Homo sapiens: one gene and its partner. The protein of the gene in region 2 interacts with the protein of the main gene of each other region in a biochemical or structural test. Each region holds a gene or a part of one and is shown on either strand. Other genes may lie near its edges.

What was found. Proteins that work in one complex are often made in the same cells at the same time.
Region 1: the proteins of FOXO3 (region 2) and TERT form a complex in vitro, tested with the Homo sapiens proteins (one study listed by BioGRID).

What each region holds. Positions count from the first base shown.
Region 1 is NC_000005.10:1,285,050-1,292,071, forward strand, and holds part of TERT (telomerase reverse transcriptase), read right to left. Parts: intron 1-7,022. UniProt on the Homo sapiens protein: Telomerase is a ribonucleoprotein enzyme essential for the replication of chromosome termini in most eukaryotes. Active in progenitor and cancer cells. Inactive, or very low activity, in normal somatic cells.
Region 2 is NC_000006.12:108,555,936-108,563,919, reverse strand, and holds the start of FOXO3 (forkhead box protein O3), read right to left. Parts: upstream 3,004-7,984; 5' UTR 2,712-3,003; coding exon 2,091-2,711; exon of another isoform or gene 1,897-2,090; coding exon of another isoform or gene 1,777-1,896; intron 1-1,776. UniProt on the Homo sapiens protein: Transcriptional activator that recognizes and binds to the DNA sequence 5'-[AG]TAAA[TC]A-3' and regulates different processes, such as apoptosis and autophagy.

The DNA.
Region 1 (7,022 bases), on a different chromosome or scaffold from region 2:
CGAGGGCCTGGAGACCTCACCCCTGACCTGCACCATCCAGACACCACACATCCAGCTCACAGCAGGGCCTGGCGACCTCACCCCGGACCTGCATCATCCGGACTCCATACCTCCAGCTCACCGAGGGCCTGGAGACCTCACCCCTGACCTGCACCATCCAGACACCACACATCCAGCTCACAGCAGGGCCTGGCGACCTCATCCCAGACGTGCACCATCCGGACACTGCACATCCAGCTCACTGAGGGCCTGGCGACCTCATCCCGGACCTGCACCATCTGGTACAACAGCCATGGCCATGGGAAGCCCAGCAGGTCCAGGCCGAGATGGCCACGCACGGGACCTACACACGGGATCCCGCAGACAAAGCTCAAAAAATGTCAAATGTCCTGTGAGTGATGCTCCCACCAATAACACCCTAAAATGATGAGGTGTGGACATGCTGGGCTTCAGTAAAATCTATTATTACATTAATTTCACCTTTTCTTTTTTACTTTTTTAATGTGGCTACTAGAATTTTTTTTTTTTTTTTTTTTTTTGAGACAGAGTCTCGCTGTGTTGCCAGGCTGGAGTGCAGTGGTGCAATGTCGGCTCACTGCAACTTCCAACTCCCAGGTTCAAGCAATTCTCCTGCCTCAGCCTCCCGAGTAGCTGGGATTACAGGCACCCGCCACCACGCCCAGCTAATTTTTGTGTTTTTAGTACAGATGGGGTTTCATCATGTTGGCCAGGATGGTCTCGACCTCCTGACCTCGTGATCCACCCGCCTTGGCCTCCCAAAGTGCTGGGATTACAGGCGTGAGCCACCGCGCCCAGCCTAGAAATTTTAAAATTATCCACATGGCTCACGTCATGCTCCTGTTGGGCGACAACGGCTCGGAGCCTCATCCTTTGTCCTGGTTCCCAAGCAGAAGGGAGGAAGCAGACACTCCCCCGCCAGGCAGCACCGTCAGAGCTGGCGCCACACCGCAGGTTTGCGCGATTTCAAACTCGACACCGCGGAGCCACCAGACCCCGACATGCCTGGGGTTTTCCAGGCTGAACCCAGGCCGAGCGGACGTTGCTGTCACTCACTGGCTAAGGAACGCTGGCCACGTGGTGCTCCAGACACTCACGGGCCAAGATGACCGCCCTCCTCGTGAGTCTCCACATCTTCATCTGTGCATCATAAGCAGAGGTCCCCGGACGTCGCTAGATGCCATGGAGGCCAGCACAGGTAAAGCTGGGGTTTACCAGCAATAACAAGACAGAAGAACCACGCAAAGGACAAGGAAGGGGACCCCAGACGGCGGGCCTGAGACAGAAGACAGACGGGGAACAAAGGAGGAAAAGCAGGGCGGGGGCAAAGCTACAGAAACACTCAACACGGAAAACAATATTAATAATGCTTAGCTTGTGGGGGTGTCAAGATGCCTGAGATAGAACTAAGTCAGCAGGGAAAACAGCACACAGGCTGGGGGGTGGCCAGAGCTAAAATACACTAAGGGTCTTATTGCTCAGGACAAGGGTAGCAATGTTTCAGACTTCATTTTAAAAGATCAAGGTATGCCGGGCACGGTGGCTTGCACCTGTAATCCCAGCACTGTGGGAGGCCAAGGCGGGCAGATCACTTGAGGTCAGGAGTTTGAGACCAGCCTGGCCAACATGGTGAAAGCCTATCTCTACTAAAAATACAAAAATTAGCCAGGCGTGGTGGTGGGCGCCTGTAATCCCAGCTACTCATGAGGTTGAGGAATGAGAACTGCTTGAACCGAGGAGGCAGAGGTTGCAGTGAGCCGAGATTGTGCCATTACACTCCAGCCTGGGTGACAGAGTGAGACTGTCTCAATAAACAAAAGCAAACAACGACAATAAAAAGATCAGGGGGTAACACTAAGCAAAGAGAAATAAAAGCAAATGCCCAGTGACCAGGAGGCAACGAGAGGATCAACACACACTCGGCAGGAAACGCACATGGCAACCCAAGAGGTGGTGAGAAACAAGGGAACGAGGACATGCAACAGGCAAGTGGAGAATCAGAGTGCACCAGGCGGGTCTCTAGTGACAAAAAAATGAAAATAAATCAGGTTATCCAGTTAAACAACGACTGTCAGACTGGATTGGAAATTCACCTACATGCTGTTAACAGGACATACCCACACTATAAGAATATAAAAGTGTTGAAAATTAGGCCAGACATGGTGGCTCATGCCTGTAATTCAGCACTTTGGGAAGCCGAGGTAGATGGATCCCTTGAGTCCAAGAGTTTGAGACCAGCCTGGGCAACACAGCAAGACCCTGTCTCCAGAAAAAATTTAAAAATTAGCCAGGTGTAGCGGTGCGTGTCTGCAGTTCCAGCTATTCAGGAGGCTGAGGTGAGAGGACGGCTCAGGCCAGAAGGTAAAAGTTACACTGACCTGTGATCACACCACTGCACTCACCCTGGGCGACAGACCAAGACTCTGTCTCAAAAAAAAAAAATATATATATATATATATAAATTAAAGGCAGAAAACAGACACAGCAGGAAAATACTAATCAAAAGAAGCCCAGTGTGGCAGTACTAAGAGCAATTTAAAAAAAGAATTACTAGATTACTAGAGACATAGAAGTCTCCAAAAGATTCACTCATCAGGAAGATAAAAATTCTACCACGTGCATGCACCTAACAATGCCTCACATAAATGCTACCAAACGAGAAGAAATGAACAGACCCATCCCCCAGGTGAGGGACTATGGCCTCCTTCTTGGAATTTCATGCATCTAGAAGGAGACAGAAGCTTTGCACTGGACCTTAATAAGCTGGATATAGTGAACATGCATGCCCACTATTGACAGGATGTCAAATTTACAATGGACAGTTCTGGAAACCATGCACACACTAGATCACAAAGCAAGGCTCCGCAAACTTCAAATAATTGGTATTATACAGACCACTACACAACTGAGTTAGAAATCAATAATAAAATGATAACTTAAAATACTCTACGTATCTTGATACTCTACATATCTTGAACATAAACAGTGTTCAAATAACTCACTGCTCAAAGAAATCACAGAATAAGCTAAAGAATACTTAAAAGTCACTGATATCAAAATGATTTCACGTCAAAACACAGCGTGCACAAAGAAAAAAATCACAGAATAAGAATACTTAAAAGAAGTATTAACACTTTGAAGTATTTTAAGAACACTTGAAAGTGGCTGATGTTGAGATTACTTCACATCAAAACACAGGGTGCAGGTAAGGCAGCACTTAGAGGGAAAGGCATGACTAAACTAAGAAGCTAGAAAAGGAATGAAAGAATAAACCAAGAAAAAGCATACAATGGAGAGATAGAAACGTCAGAGGTAAATCAGTGAAATTCAAAACTAAGACCCAAGAGGGAAGTCTGACGAAGGCTGGCGGAGACACCGGCCCTCCACGTGGGTCTCAGAGCAGGAGACAGACAGAGACACTCCAACCTGTGGCTGGACGTCAATCCATGTGAGGGGGCGACTGGAGGCAGAGCCCAGCCTAAGCAATGAGCGGCAGGTGCCCAGAATAAGGTGACAAGCGTTGCCACCCACCCAAGGGGGCCAAGCAGAGGGGCAGCTTGGGAGAAAACAGGACAAGTGAGGGGGCTGGGGTGACTTGCTTTCCTTCAGGGCACAGAGAACCCTTTCTGGGATGTCTCCAGCAACACGTGGCAGCAGACACAGGCAGCCCAGAGTCCAGCCTCGGCATGAGACAAGCTGGGAGAGGAGTATTGGCAGCATGCATGTGGCGGGCACGTGGTGAGCAAGCCAGGCCCAACAGAGGCAAGCGGACCTGAAGCTGTGGCTGCAGTGCCTGGCACGCGGGAGGCGAGAGCCTGCAGTCCCGTGTCCCCGTAGCAAAATGGAACGGAGAGGTGACCAAGAAGAGCCGAGCATCAGAAAAGATAGGCTTGGGGACCAGCACTGCGCCTGCACCATCTACCCAGGCAATGGGCAACCGGCGCAGCTGTGGCTATAGAAAGAGCAAACATTCAGGAGCAAGCTCAAGTGAGCAAACGCCAAGGACACCTGGGGACAGAGCCTCACTCACCCTACACGAGACAGGGACACCCAGGGACAGCGCCTCACTCACCCTGCACCTGAGAGGGACACCCGGGGGCCGCAACTCACTCACCCTACACGTGACAGGGACACCCGGGGACGGCGCCTCACTCACCCTACACGTGACAGGGACACCCGGGGATGGCGCCTCACTCACCCTACACCTGAGAGGGACACCCAGGGACGGCGCCTCACTCACCCTACACGTGACAGAGACACCCGGGGACAGTGCCTCACTCACCCTACACGTGACAGGGACACCCGGGGACGGGGCCTCACTCACCCTGCACGTGACAGGGACACCCGGGGACGGCGCCTCACTCACCCTACACGTGACAGGGACACCCGGGGACGGCGCCTCACTCACCCTACACGTGACAGGGACACCCGGGGACGGCGCCTCACTCACCCTACACGTGACAGGGACACCCGGGGACGGCGCCTCACTCACCCTACACGTGACAGGGACACCCGGGGACGGCGCCTCACTCACCCTGCACGTGACAGGGACACGCGGGGACGGCGCCTCACTCACCCTGCACGTGACAGGGACACCCGGGGGCCTCGCGTCAATCACCCTGCACGTGACAGGGACACCCGGGGACGGCGCCTCACTCACCCTGCACGTGACAGGGACACCCGGGGACAGTGCCTCATTCACCCTACACGTGACAGGGACACCCGGGGACCGCGCCTCACTCACCCTGAACGTGACAGGGACACCCGGGGACAGTGCCTCACTCACCCTGCAAGTGACAGGGACACCCGGGGGCCGCGCCTCACTCACCCTGCACGTGACAGGGACACCCGGGGGCCGTGCCTCACTCACCCTGCACGTGACAGGGACACCCGGGGGCCGCGCCTCACTCACCCTGCACGTGACAGGGACACCCGGGGGCCGCGCCTCACTCACCCTGCACGTGACAGGGACACCCGGGGGCCGCGCCTCACTCACCCTACACGTGACAGGGACACCCGGGGGCCGCGCCTCACTCACCCTGCACGTGACAGGGACACCCGGGGGCCGCGCCTCACTCACCCTACACGTGACAGGGACACCCGGGGACAGTGCCTCACTCACCCTACACGTGACAGTGACACCCGGGGACCGCGCCTCACTCACCCTACACGTGACAGGGACACCCGGGGGCCGTGCCTCACTCACCCTGAACGTGACAGGGACACCCGGGGACGGCGCCTCACTCACCCTACACGTGACAGGGACACCCGGGGACGGCACCTCACTCACCCTACACGTGACAGGGACACCCGGGGACGGCGCCTCACTCACCCTGCACGTGACAGGGACACGCGGGGACGGCGCCTCACTCACCCTGCACGTGACAGGGACACCCGGGGGCCTCGCGTCAATCACCCTGCACGTGACAGGGACACCCGGGGACAGCGCCTCACTCACCCTGCACGTGACAGGGACACCCGGGGACGGTGCCTCACTCACCCTACACGTGACAGGGACACCCGGGGACCGCGCCTCACTCACCCTGAACGTGACAGGGACACCCGGGGACAGTGCCTCACTCACCCTACACGGGACAGGGACACCCGGGGACCGTGCCTCACTCACCCTGCACGTGACAGGGACACCCGGGGACCGCGCCTCACTCACCCTGCACGTGACAGGGACACCCGGGGACCGCGCCTCACTCACCCTGCACGTGACAGGGACACCCGGGGACCGCGCCTCACTCACCCTGCACGTGACAGGGACACCCGGGGGCCGCGCCTCACTCACCCTGCACGTGACAGGGACACCCGGGGGCCGCGCCTCACTCACCCTGCACGTGACAGGGACACCCGGGGGCCGTGCCTCACTCACCCTGCACGTGACAGGGACACCCGGGGACGGCGCCTCACTCACCCTGCACGGGACAGGGACACCTGGGGACCGCGCCTCACTCACCCTGCACGGGACAGGGACACCCGGGGACAGTGCCTCACTCACCCTACACGTGACAGGGACACCTGGGGACCGCGCCTCACTCACCCTGCACGTGACAGGGACACCCGGGGACAGTGCCTCACTCACCCTATACCTGGGAGGGACACCCAGGGACGGTGCCTCACTCACCCTACACGTGACAGGGACACCTGGGGCCGCGCCTCACTCACCCTACACCTGAGAGGGACACCCGGGGACAGCGCCTCACTCACCCTACACCTGGGAGGGACACCCAGGGACGGTGCCTCACTCACCCTACACGTGACAGGGACACCCGGGGACCGCGCCTCACTCACCCTGCACGTGACAGGGACACCCGGGGACAGCGCCTCACTCACCCTGCACGGGACAGGGACACCCGGGGACCACGCCTCACTCACCCTACACGTGACAGGGACACCCGGGGACGGCGCCTCACTCACCCTACACCTGAGAGGGACACCCGGGGACAGTGCCTCACTCACCCTACACGTGACAGGGACACCCGGGGACCGCGCCTCACTCACCCTGCACGTGACAGGGACACCCGGGGACAGTGCCTCACTCACCCTGCACGGGACAGGGACACCCGGGGGCCACACCTCAATCACGCTGCACGGGACAGGGACACCCGGGGGCCGCGCCTCACTCACCCTACACGTGACAGGGACACCTGGGGGCAACGCCTCACTCACCCTGCACGTGACAGGGACACCCGGGGACCACGCCTCACTCCCTGCATAAGCCAGGGGCAGATTGTGACCTCATCTGAAGTCAGAGAACAGCAATGACAGGCAGAGTCCTGATCAGAGAACTCAAACTCTCCTCAACGAAGGAAGCTGGAGCACAAAAAGCAAAACTGGGTTGCATGACGCTTATCTGACTCGGCGTGGTCCACCTGAGCCGCAGCAGGTGTGAGGCAGCTGCCGTTCGATGGGTAGGGACTTCCAGTCACGCAAGACGCAGCATTTCAAGCAACCTGCTGTAAACACCGCCGAGTTAGCAATTCTGCACTGTACACAGA
Region 2 (7,984 bases):
TTATGACTAGTCCCAAAATCTGTATTGCAAGTCCTACAAACTATATGAAAATGTATCTAGCCCAATCTCAATTCGCGGCTACTTTTGGTAATACCATTATCTCATGTAAATCTTCCCCCCAAAAATAAAGTTCATTAAACTTATTATATTTAACTATAAACAAAATAACAAGAAATATTTGTGAAATTAAATTATTTTTGTAACCTTAAAAATCACAGGAAAGGTGAAAACGCCTTCCTACGTTAACGTTTTAACTAAGTTTAAAGTTAACTAACTTTTCACTAACGTATTCTCCTCACCAAATTCAAACATGCAAGACTAAATTTCAAGTGAGAGAAATCTGAAAAACATTTCGAACCCCCAAATCCATGTTCTCAGATCCTGTCCGCTTACGCCTTCCTGATACTATACACTGATTAACCCTTCCCATCCACTTGGAAACCCAGTTTTAAAACATATCACACTAGTGCTCTTTTCAAATGGAATTGTCTAACTTTCATCCTTTCTGTAAAGAACTCTCGTATCATACACCTGGCATTCTTTTACAAAGCAATTGAATTAAACCAAATATAAGACTCATAATGTAAGCATTTGTTAAAAGAAATGAGACACATTAGTGGATTAATATCAAAGCACACGTGTTTTGCTTTTAAAGTATCTAATACAAAGCCTCTCTGATATAAGCCGTATTTAACTTTGCAAGGGTTTTCTAGAAGCAAAATAAAACATTCTCTACATTAAGTTCTTTAACTTTTTCATCTACAGGCTCGTCTCCAGTGCTTCCATTGAATTCTCCACTAAGATTAAACTGTTCTTATTTTTATACCTCCTGAAACCCAGGAAGACAGAGGGCTCCCCAATGACAATGAAGAAAGGGAAGGAGGAAGCAACTACTTCTTTTACATAAAACAAAACAAAAAAAAATCTAAGCTAAATTGCAAATATGGGCAGCTGATAAGAGATGTATATCTCCAATCGCACAGGACTCTTTGGCCTGGTACTGACACACACTGTCTTGGGGGAAGGGGCCAGGGAGGTGCCTAGGAAGAGGAAAGCAGCTGGATATCAGCAGCCCAGCAGGGGCAGAGGAGTTAATCTCTTTGGATACCCAACTGCAGGAAGTCATTACATCATAGGCCTTTCCACACCTCTCTCCCTACCACGTGTCCCGTGCCCCAAGAGGATGATAAGGAACGGTAGAGAGTCTCTCTTCGGGTTCATTTACAGGTAGAAGCCATTACGGCCCGGCCCAGCCCCCAAACCTCCTCCCAAACGCCAGAGTGAATGAAGCGCAGGCCCCGCGTCCCCCACACCAGAGCCCTTCCCTCAAACAGTGCCTGAATCCAGGCCTCGGCGGGAGCAGCGGGTGCAGCCAGTCTGGATTGAGGTGGCCAGACCGGCCGGTTCGAGGCCCCAGAACATTTCAGAAGCAGCTAGTCAGAAGCAGGTTTACTGGAGCGACATCTCCGAGAAGAAAAGGTATCAATATAGGCAAGGAAAGGAAGCCGTCCAGGAAAAGGTTTGCAACCACTGCTTTTTCTAATCGGATCGATGTGCCTGTAGGTGTTAACACCCACAAGCTGAAACTTGGACCCGAAGGTTCTCATTCAGCTAGTGACGACGCAACATGCTCCTGCGACAGACTGGAAACCACACATCCAACCCCTCCTCCAGACACTGCGTCCCAAACACCCCCACACCTCTCACTCCAGCCACAGCGCCCGCACCAGACCCCCACTACGGTAAACTCTACTCCAAAGTTGGCTGCGGACCTACCTCCTCGGTGCTGTCCGGAGAATCCAGCAAATGTACTCCTGTCCGTTCGCCCTTCCCTCGCCGGCGTCCCCTGCCCCCTCTCCTCACCTGGCCATGCCCCAAGCTTCTGGGGAGCCTCATTCACCCCTCCGAGACCGTCCCCAGGTGCCCCGACTCCGGGGATCAAAGATAACCCCCAAAGCCTCGCAGCGGAGGCTCCCCCTGCCAACCCCTTGCCCTGGAGCCCGCAAGCGCACTCCGACGAATCCGAGACGCGTCTCGCGCTGCGCAGGAGGCCCGGCGGGTCCTGCTGCCAGCCCGGGGTGGGTACGCACCTTCCAGCCGGCAGAGCTGTTGCTGTCGCCCTTATCCTTGAAGTAGGGCACGCAACGCACCATCCACTCGTAGATCTGGGACAGAGTGAGCCGTTTGTCCGGGGAGCTCTCGATGGCGCGGGTGATCAGGTCCGCGTAGGACAGGTTTCCCCAGGCGTTCCGCCGCGACGAACATTTCCTCGGCTGCCCGGAGCCCCCAGCCGCCCCCGGCTGCGGCGGTGGCAGCGGTTGCTGAGGCTGCAGCAGCGCCTGTGTACCCCCGCTCAGCCCGCCCGCCGCGGTGGCTGGCCCAGACCCGGGGTCTTGCCCTCCGGGTGCCAGCACCCGGGCCGAGTCCTCAAGGAGCAGCCCGGAGCCCAGCGTGCCGCTCCCGCCGCCGCCGCCGATCGCCATGGCCGAGCCGGCCCGTCCCCCGCCGTCCTCGTCGTCTTCATCGTCCTCCTCCTCGGGGATCATGGAGTCGGCGGCCGTCTCCCCCGAGGGCTTGGCAGGGCTCGCTTGGAGCTCCGGCCTTTGCAGGGGCCACGTACAGGATCGCGGACGGCTCTGGGGCTCGAACTCCGGGTCCAGCTCCACTTCGAGCGGAGAGAGCGGGGCCGGGGAAGCCGGTGCCTCTGCCATCTTCGCCGCCCGCCCGCCCGCGGCTGGGGCTCTCGCGCTCTCCTCTCGCGCCGGGGCGGGGTGCAGCGGGGGAGGGACGTGGACGCCGCGAAGGCTCCGGCTCCCGGGCGCCGCCGCCGCCGCCTGGGGAAGCACCAAAGAAGAGAGAAGGAGAGTTGGTTATCCCGGGCCGGAGCCCCGTCCTCGGCGAGTCCTCGCCCGCTGCCGCCACCTCCCAGTCCTGCCGCGCCCGCCTCCCAGGAACAGGAGGACCTGAAGACGTGCGGCCAGCGAACCTGGCGCAGCAGACACCGCCCCCCGGCCAGGCCGCGATGGAGCCGCGAGCGAATCGACGGCCTCGCGCGGGGCAGCCCCCTCCCCCCGCCGCCCAGCCGCAGGTCCCTCCCGGGCTAGGCGGCGGGGCGGGGAGAAGGGGGAGGGGCGCCCGGGGGAGGGGCGGCCGCGCCTTTAAAGCGGGCAGCGGCCGGAGCTGGCGCAGCCGAGCCGCGGTCAGAGCCCGAGCTCGGGTGTGCGTGCGTTTGTTTATGTTTCGCTCGGGCCCGCTCTAGTGCCTCCCGCGGCGCCGCCGCTCAAGTCTGTGCTGTCTTCGGCTCTTCTCCCCTTTCCTAGCCTGGCCGCCTCCGCGACCCCCCGTCACCCCCCACCCGGTCGAATGGCCCGAGCCCGGGGACTGCGCGGGCAGCTCCCTCTCCCCTCTTCGCCCGCGGGCCAGAGGGCGAACGGGGGTCTGGGCGCAGATGGGCCCTTGTCACTTCCAAAAAATAAAGGAAAGACAGAAAGAAGGGGGAGCAGCAGCCCAGCGGGTGTTCGCAGAGGTTCGAGCCCGGCGGGGACGGCCACTTCGGGGTTTTGTGTGGTTTGCATTCTCGCGGACGTCGTCCCCTCCGCCCCCTTCCCAGTCGGGATCCGGGGGAGGGAGCGAGTCGGAACATAAATCTTCCAACAGGTCGGGAAGCGCCAAGTCTCCCGGGCTGCTAGAAAACCCGGACCAGCACGTTCATCACCTCCTTGCTCCCGCTGCTGCCATCTTGACAGTTTCCCCCTTCCCGAGTCCTTTAAAAACACTAGCGGGCGAGAAGGGGGGCGCGCACACCGCGGCTCAGGGAGGGGAAAGGGAAGCGCCCGGCCCAGCTCGGAAGCAGATCCGGAGTCACCGGGAAGGCGGCCGCCCGCTGCACGGCTCCGGCGCCTACCTCGCTTCCTTCCCTTCAGGGACGCGGCGGGACGACGCACGATCCCGCGCGGGCCCGGGGCACGGCGAGGAGGGGGCGCGCAACCTCGGCGAAGGAGAAGCGCTCGGGCCGTCGCCGCAGCCCGCCCGAGGAACCGCCTGTCAGCTCGCGCGCCGCCACCTTCCACATTCCTCCTCCTCCCTTCCACGAGCAGGGCGGCCGCGGCAGCAGCACAAAGTTATAGACACACGCAGGGCGCCTCAACCTAGGCTGACGGCGGGCGGGTCCCCGCCCAGGGGGAGGGCTGGGCGGCGGGCTGGGCGGCGGGCCGGGCGCGCGGCGGGCGTGCGTGTGTGAGTGCGCGTGTGTGAGCTCGCGCGCGCCTGCGCGGCCCGGCTCCGCGGGGCTGCGGGCGTGGGTGTCCGGGCGCGCGCCGTGGGCCGGGACTCGGCGGGCTCCCGCTGCTGTCCCCGCTGGGCTCCTCCTCCCTCCCGAGAGTCTCAACGACAACAAAGCGCGGCGCTGGCCCGGGAGAGGAGGGAGAAGGGGGGAGAAGGGAGGAGAGGAGGAAGAAGTGGGGAGAGGAGGGAGAAGGGGGAGCGGCAGGAGCGCACAGCCCCCGACGCTCCAAGGAGCGCAGCGGCGTGGCCTCCCTGACTCCGGGCAGGGCGCCTGGTACCAGGGGGTCCCTGGCCTGCGCGTCCGCCCGCCGGGCTCTGGGCCAGCCCCGGTGTCCGGTTCCCTGTTAGAACGCGACACCAGGTAACACCCGAGATAAGATGCTGGCCGCAAGATGGGCAGGGTTATCGCGGTGTGGAAATACTGAACGGCGAAGATGTTGGTGCCTGCACAACTTCGATAAGCTGATGCTCACAGATTCGATCAGGCACCAAAAGGTTTGCACTGAGTCTCTCACCTCGGACGGTGGACCACAGTCGTGTTTCACTTTTCATGGGTTTCATGGCAAACGGGGGAGAGGTGTAACTAACTCCGGAAGAAATGCAAATTTACCCCCGTCCTACATTCAAGAGCAGATTCCGAACAACTGAGAAGGGGAAATAATTTTAATCTAATTTGTAAATGACGACAAAACCGCTACGTGGGCATTTTTGACTTTTAAAAAAAGACGTATCCTTTAGGTTAAACGAAAAACATCTGCACAAGTCCTTATTCTACGATCCGTGCCCCAAATCGTTTATTTGTACTCTACGAATGCACCACACGCGACATGCACACCAAAAGTCTACACACTAGTTCATAAATATATTTTTTAAAAAATCCTTGTAAGTCACCGGAGATAGCTCAGAGTGTAGAAGCGGGCTCCTCAACGACCCCATACACAAAAAGGTCCAGCCCAGCGTACGCAAGAGCCAGCCCGCCCAGCCGCCTCCGGGCTCCGGGCTTTGCGCAGCGCCCGTCACTCAAGTGACGCGCGGCCCCGCCCCTGCACCAAGCTAGTTCGACGCGTACAAACAGATGATGTCATCGTATCCACACGCGCGTGACCCCGGAGCTCTCCGCCGCGTCGCCATTCGCTGCGCCGCTTACTCGTCAAGGCACGCCGCGCGCTGACTGGCCGCGGCCACCAGTCTCCAGGCCCCAGACGCCCCTCTCCGCCCCCCCGCCCCCGCCCCCCAGCAAATAATAAACAATCGAGTAAAATTCTAAGGAAGGAGAGAGAGGAGAGGGAAAAAGGGAGAGGGCGCACTAGAAACCAATCCTTCGCGCGCTGGCGGTGGGAGGGTTCAAGGGGGGACGCGAGAGGACAGCGGACGGGAGGAAGGCAGCCGACTTGGGGCGGTGGGTCTGCCAGCGAAGAGGAGGCGTCGGGGGAGGAAAGTTGCAGCGCACTCGACTGGGCGCGCCTGGCGGGGTAGGGGGCGCTAGGGCCCGGAGCGGCGGGGCTGGGGGCTCGGGGGCGGGGCGCGACCCGCCGAGGGGGCGGGGACTGAATGGCGCCGGCCGACACGTGCGGGAGGAGGGCGGGCGCGCGCCACACACACTGGGCCGGGGCGCGCGGCCCTGGTAGCCGCGCGCGCTTGTTTACCAGCGCACGTGGGTGTTATTTTTAAATGGAATGTGGCGCTGGCTGCGCTGCCGAGTGGCGGGCGCGTGGGGCCGCCCGCGCTGGCGGAGGGACGCGGCGGGGCCCGCGGCGCGGCCTCTCCGGGCGCTGCTCGCGAGACAGCTAGGCTGTCCCCACTGCGCGCCGCTGGCATAGCCGGCGGCCCGGGCCGGGGAACCTGATTGAGAGTTTCGCGCGCTGCCCGAGCCGCGGCGGAGACGACGGTTTCCCGCCGCGGAACGCCGCCGTCTTTGCGCCCAGCTCGGCTCCCTCATTCTCACATTCAGGGAACAAAGCCTCCTGTTTGTGCTTCGCCCAGGAGGCCGCGCCAGTCCGCGGCCACGGTTTCTAGAGCAGATCTCACAAGCTGCACACACTCACTGGCACACATACTTTGGCTGCGAGGTGGACCCTCAGCACCCTACGTACTCTGTGTCCTCGCTTCCTTGTACCGAATGCCCGCAGTCCACATGTGCCTGTCTCGTGGGCATGCGGCTCTGCCCACATATAAAAGCGTTTCTGCTATTTCGGGTTGCCCTTGGAAGGGGGAGTCTGGGGAAGGGGGCTCTGACTGCTTACTGCGGTGGCTCCTCCTCACGAGGCACCTCTCCTCTCCTTGTAGGCCTGTCCCACTGAGAAGCCCCAGGTTTGCATTGGGTTTACAGCCTGGGAGTGTGGATGGTGATGTATGACCACAACTCGGCTTCAAGTGCCAGTGCTTGGGGTGCGGGTTGGGTATGGTGGTGGTTAAAAGCTGGTATTCAGCTTTGCACGAAGAACTGGAAGGCTAGATCACCCAGGGCCGCGCATCGTGATGCAGCATAAAATTCCAAGAATTTTCGTTGCTGGCTTTAAATACTTGTAACACTGTAGAAGAAATCCACGCGTTTTCTTCTCTAAATCTAAGCAATCTTTTGTCATTAGAGTGCAGACCTGCAAAAGTAGAAAGAATGTGTTTACAGTGGCTGGGCTCTCGGCCATTAGATTTTCACTATAAACATGTTGAGTGTCCATTTACAGAACACATATCCCAGGGGCATTCCAAAAGAGTGGAGGAGTCAAAGATTCAGTGGATTAACAGAGCCTTGTGAGCTTCACTTCACAGTGAGGAATGGGGGGCAGGCACATGATAAAGCCATTTCCCTCAAAGAGCTTACTTGAGGGTATAAGACATGTTACTTGGGGGTATAAAACATGTTAAAAAGAAATATTGCAAGTTTAAAAATAGTAGAAGGCCGGGTGCAGTAGCTCACACCTGTAATCCCAGCACTTTGGGAGCCCAAGGCAGGAGGATGCCTTGAGCCCAGGAGTTCAAGACCAGCCTAGACAACATGACGAAACCCAGGTGTCTACAAAAATACAAGAAGTCCCAGCTATGGGAGGCCGAGGTGTAAGGACGGATCGCTTGGTCCCAGGAGGTCCAGGCTGCAATGAGCCATGATTGTACCACTGCACTGCAGCGTGGGTGACAGAGTGAGGCCCTGTCCTCCCTCCCTCACCACAAAGGAAAAAAAAAAAAAACAGTAGAAGACAAATACAAGAGGTCATACATAGAGTGTTGGGTAAGTTTCAAGTGAATTGAAGATCAAAAAGCTTCACTTGGAAGTGACTATAAACTTGCAGCTTTGTAAATGTGCACCTTACCCTTGTAATTTGTGCATATGGGCAAACCTTTGAGAACTAAGAGGTTGAATCTCAGAGACTGTTCTCTTTTAGCCACAAATTGCCTCGACCTTTGCCTTCCTCTTGTAGGCCTCCTTGTTCCTTCTCCATTTCTTCCTACCAGAAGTTATGGTTGTTAATTGAGAGGAAATGCCAGCATTCCCTTCAAGGCAGAATTTTTGGTCAAAACTTTTCCCACCTCTTATTGAACAATTTTATATCCTATTTATTTCTATTAATAATTTAAGGTGGTGATTGTTCACTCTATTTTGCAAATCCAGTCACTGGAGGGACAAAATTTAAGATGTTTACCTAAGTAAGCTGGGTAAAAATCACCATTTCAAACACCTAGTTGTGAGGGGATTCGTGGTAGA